Linked DNA regions of Homo sapiens: region 2 is linked to region 1. Evidence: fine-mapped expression QTL. Tissue or cell type: whole blood. Region 1 holds a variant in brackets; the other region holds the start of a gene. All regions are shown on one strand. Distances are from middle to middle.

Region 1 (2,757 bases):
TAAACAGCATGAAATTCAGAACAAATGTCTGCTATAGGTAGTATCATGTACAGTTCCTCAATTCCTCAGTGTGAAGGGGCAGAGGAAGTGTGGAGGCCGCTAAAACTTGAACCTGCCTCACTGCCTACCACCAGAAACTAAGGCCAATTTCCCAAAGTGAAATCAAATTTTCTGGACTCTGCCTCCTGTCCACAATTCTAAATGATGAGAGGCAAACACAACCCAAGAGACCACCAAAAAGTAATCAGCATTCAGGGCCTTGAATTCTGGCAAAAGGAGAATGACGAATCTTCCTAGATTACCCAATTAGGTAAAATGAAATGAAAAAAAACCCACAACGCTTTTAAAAATACTGTTACATTATAAAATAAGATCTATAAAAATTACTCCTCCCATTTATCACAAGTCTAGGAGCTACTTGTTATTGCAATTGCTTTTTTTTAGGGGAGTGGGGGGGACGGGAATTAAAATCCCTTTAGGAGGTTTTTATATGAATGCCCCTACAAAATCCAAAGTAGGGTTACCGTGCCATGTTCCTTGGAAATGGAAAACCCATCCATATTGTTGGCATTTAAACACAGACATAAATGAAAACTGGAATTTCAAAGCAAAGGCCATGGACTTGTACTCCTATAATAAAGAGGAAAATGAAAAGACTAATGTTTATAGGTCTCTGGGTGTAGAACAAGAATTGAAGAGTTCTGACATACTGGGAAGGGAGAAAAATTCCACATGCAAGACAGACATCCAAAATGGCTCAACATAATTTATTTTTTATGTTAAAATGTACAGAGTTCTTTTGAAAGTACTTGCTAGAAAGGGGAAAAAAAGGTATTACATACAAGGAGAGGAAGGGAGGCCGGCTGGCCCAGGAGCGCGTGACATGGAGAGATACAAAGGCATCTAGGCACCCCTTCCCCTTAGCTTACAAGTCACCATGAACAAAGTACAAAGAGGTTACAAAACAGGAAAAGCAAATATAAACAGACAGGATAGACGTGGCTTCCTTTGTACATGCGGCTTTTAGAGGCATCTGGAGCTCTATTCACACACGCTAGAGATCTCTTTAAAGAGAATTTATCTTTCTTAAAATAGTTTTTAATATTCTACAACAAAGATAAAAAATTTTAAAGATGGAATGAAATGAAAAAGCTCTTATTTTAAAAGGCATCAAAGTCACTAACAGTGAGTTTTTAAATTTCTTTTTTAGAAGATTACCCAAGTTATCTTGCTAAAAATACATTTTTTTTAAACAGAAGTGAAAAAATGACAGGTACCAATATTACTGTGTTGGATAATTTCTTTTATAATATAGAAAAGAACTTTTTTTTTCTACAATAGTTCTACAGTCACAAAGAGGCTTGTGGAAAAGGGAGCTGCCCGATTGAATTTTTTATAAAGAAACAAACAAAACCAAACACAACCGCAAACCAACAGAAACTGATTTCACGGCC[CTCATT/C]TCAACAGCTTCTCCTTCTGCCTTGACCCACCCTCCTCCCAATATACCTCCCTCCCGACCCACCCCGTCCCCACCCCAACCAGGAAGCAATGACACAGCTGAAGATGTAGGGCGATGGCAGCACAGTGCACTTTCTACATAGATGACTGGGAACTGGAATAGTATATACAGAGAAACTGGGTCCTACACAGCCTTGCACATGCTCAGAGCTGAGAGCGGGAAGATGTGGAATTCTGCGTTTCTACCTAGCACGCTTGAGAAAGTCAATTAAAGTGTATTAAAAAAACCAACAAACCTGTGCATTTGAAAAAAGTTAATGCCTAATTAGTACTTTAAAAATTTATCTATATAAAATGTACAAATAAAGGAGAGAATTTAATGCTTACAGATATTTCTCTAAGCAGTACTTCCCCCTTTTGGATATTTGACTGCACATACCAAGTGGTATAATAGTTTCCATCTTCTAATGATGGAATATATATATATATATATGTGTGTGTGTGTGTGTGTGTGTGTGTGTATATATATATATATATATTTTTTTTTTTTTTTTTTTTTTTTTTACCTATCCCTGGAGCAAGTAATAGGAAGAGAATGGGCAAACTGGTTGCACGAGAGAAAAGAGAATGGAGTTGGGAGCAACACATGAACTTGCGTTATAACATTCTGCTGTCCAGATCTGCCCTACTGTGCTGGTGGTCGGTCTGTCCCTCTTCTCATTAGCCACTCACAGGAGAGGTGCTTGTGCACTCTGATTCACAGGGGATGAACTCAGGATCTCAAAAGACATACAAAAACTAGAGGTATGTATCACTTAAATAGCTACGAAACTCACACCGTGATCTCCCTTCTGACACACATCTGCGCCATCTCTTCCAACATAAAATAAACTGTTTCAATGGTTTGTCAGTTATTTTTCAAATCACTAAAATGTACAGTCATCCACCAACAATTTAAGAAAGAACCTAAGAGGCAAATCACTGGGGACTGCTATTTGAGTTTTATCAGTCAAAGGCTCAAGCATCAAGACCCTCAGTTAGCATTTCAAAGTACATACTAGAAACAAGAGGCTGGGTGGCGTGTGTGTGCGTTATGGCTGATTCACCAGGTGGTAAAAAAACAAGAGGTTAATCTCCTCTTTTTGATTGTTAATTGACCATCTCTATTCCTCCAAAGGCTGGATTTGGATTGCAAACAGCTTTTCTCTGAGATTCTGCTGTTAATTGAGACTTACAGTATTTTTGTGTCTCTGAGTGCTGAGTGGGAATATTTTAAAAAAGAAGAAAAAAATTATATTA
Region 2 (2,500 bases), 120 kb after region 1:
ACTCCCGGAAAGTACACGAGCGGCTAGAGCGAGCGCAACTCGCTTCCGACAGTCCTTCCCGTCCCCATTCCCCACCCCTAAACACGTCTTCGCGCTCTCTTTTCAAAGAGCGAGAAACTTTAAAAACTTGGATCTGCACAGCCCGGCAGCTCGCCGACGGGGCGCTGCACCGTTTCCACGCGATGGAAACAGACCCCGAGCACAAGTTAACAATGAAATCACGTGAAGGAGTTCAGAGCGGTGCATAGCCCCGGCCCAGCTCCGCACCCTAAGCTCTGGGGGCCGGCTCGAGGGCGGCGCGGGTTGCTGGGAGCCTGACAGTCGCGCACCGGGCCAAGCCGCGAGGTTGACAGGCGCCCGGCCTCCCCTCGGCGGCTGGGCTGACAGCCCGGCAGACACAACACCACACGTGCTGCGCCTCGCACCACAACACCCGCCGGCCTGTCAGCCCCGCTCGCCGCCTCAGCCCCGCTCGGATCCCCGCGCCCCCGGCCGGAGCCAAAGCCGGAGCCGGAACCCGAGCCCGAGCCCGAACCCGAGCGCCCGCGAGCGCGGGGAGAAGCGGCCCGGCCCGGCACAGCCGGCACGCGCGCGGCGGGCGGGTGGGCGCGCCCCGAGGGAGAGCGGGCTCGCCGGCTCCGCCAGCCCGAGGCTCCGCGGCCTGGGCCGCTCGCCGCCCGCCCACCCGCCGGCTCCCCCAGGGCGGGCCCGGCCGGCGGGATCGGGGGCGCGGGGCCCGCGAGCGCGGGGCCGGGCGGCGGCGCGCGGGCCGCGGGCCGGGGCAGCCGGGCGCCGAACAAGCGAGCAAGCGAGCGAGCGAGCGGGCGGGCGCGAGGGGGCGGCCACGGCGCCCCAGCCCGAGGCCTGGCGCAGAGCAGCGGGAGGCGGCGCAGGCCGCGGCGGGGCCTGCAGCGGCCCGCCGACCCCGCGAGGCAGCGGAGTGGGCCCTGGAGCGGCTCGGCCTCGGGCTGGGCGGCCGGGGGCGGCCGGGAACGGCCCCTCGGCTACTTACCGGGAGGAAGGACAGCCGAGATCCCGGGGCCCCGGGCCGGACCGCGGAGATGCCCCAAACTGACACGGCCGCCATCTTGGAGACAGTGAGCTCCAGCCGGGGGGAGGGGAGGCAAGGCGGCGGAACAGCCGCGGGGGGAGGGGAGCGTCGCGAGGGAACGGCGGCCTGGGGGAGGGAGCTGGAAGAGCCTGGGCGGGCGGCGAGGGGAGGCGGAGGCCCGGCAGCGCGGGTGGGGGGCGGCCGAGAGCGGGAAGAGCTGGGCCGAGAGCCGGGAAAGGCCGGAGGGCGGGGCGGGGCAGCAGGGAAGAGCCGGCCGGCGGGGTCACGTGGGGCCGGTACAAAAGGCCAAAGCCAGGGGAGGAGGAGGACTTGGTGGGGCTGGAGGCTGGGGAGCGGGGGTTCCTCCTCTCCCGTCTCACGCGTTTAAGTCAGACGGCGACCCGGGAGAGGAGGAGCTGGTGCACCCCATGCCACCGCTGGGGAAACTGAGGGCAGGAGTCTGGGTGGGGTGGCTTCAGTGTGGCACGGAAATCCGGCAGCCACGCAGGATGGGAACTCTCGGCGGCGTCTGTTTACAGTTAGTGAGCCCTCCCTCCCCACTCATTTGCCTGCACAGCGACTTTCCGGAGCCCGAGGGCGGGGCCTGGGGGGCGGAGAGGAGGCGGCTTCCCGTCCTCACCCCTGGCAGCTCGCCTCAGCCCCCGACGGCTCTCCTGTGTCGGTGGGAAGAGTTGGGGAGAGGGTGGAACCAGAAGCACCCGTCTTAACCCCTTTCAGCAGTGACTTCATTTCTTCCCTCCCCCAGCAGCTGAGAGGGTTCTTGGAGCTCACTAGAGCCATTTTATGGGAGACTCCACAGACCTGGGTCGTGTGACTTGGACAAGGTCACACAGCTAGTATGTGGCGCGCACCTGAGCCTGGGACTGAGATTTGTCTTATTCCAAAGCCGGTCTTCCCTTCTTGCCCTGTGCGGAACTCTTGTCCATACTTAGGGCGTTGGAACCACGAGCAGGCGGTTCTTCATGGCCTGCCTGTCCACTACTGGCTGTATGGACGTTTCTTTGTCTTGCCTTTCATCTACTTTAAACTCTTTGATGCAGAGACTGAGTCATACTTTTTTTTTTTTTTTTGAGACAGTGTCGCTCTGTTGCCCAGGCTGGAGTGCAAGTGGTGCGATCTTGGCTCACTGCAACCTCCGTCTCCTGGGTTCAAGCGATTCTCCTACCTCATCCTCCTGAGTAGCTGGGACTGCAGGCGCCCGCCACCACGCCTGGCTTATTTTTGTATTTTTAGTAGAGACGGGGTGTCACTATGTTGGCCAGGCCGCTGGTCTCGAACTCCTGACTTCAAGTGATCCGCCCTCTTCGGCCTCCCAAAGTGCTGGGATTACAGGCCTGAGACACTGCACCTGGCCAAGTCATGCATTTTTTTTTTTTCTGCATTCACTAGAAAGACAGTAGACATGAAAAAGACACTAAATGTTTAATC

The links. PIP is the estimated chance that this variant, and not a neighbour inherited with it, causes the effect.
Region 2: it holds the start of KAT6A, and the variant in region 1 is fine-mapped to the expression of KAT6A in whole blood (INTERVAL, PIP 0.98).

What each region holds. Positions count from the first base shown.
Region 1 is chr8:41,928,733-41,931,489 of GRCh38, forward strand. It overlaps KAT6A (lysine acetyltransferase 6A), which reads right to left. Exons shown (of 17, transcript NM_006766.5): 17 at 747-2,757. Among named protein-coding and RNA genes, the nearest start is that of KAT6A-AS1, 120 kb to the right of the region's middle. RefSeq lists a silencer at 2,339-2,633. The variant CTCATT/C (reference allele first, on the strand shown) is at 1,455.
Region 2 is chr8:42,050,889-42,053,388 of GRCh38, forward strand. It overlaps KAT6A (lysine acetyltransferase 6A), which reads right to left and starts at 1,099. Exons shown (of 17, transcript NM_006766.5): 1 at 1,013-1,099. KAT6A-AS1 (KAT6A antisense RNA 1) reads left to right here and starts at 862. Exons shown (of 2, transcript NR_136589.1): 1 at 862-1,097. RefSeq lists silencers at 193-662, 763-1,392, 1,583-1,742 and enhancers at 1,191-1,712, 1,713-2,233.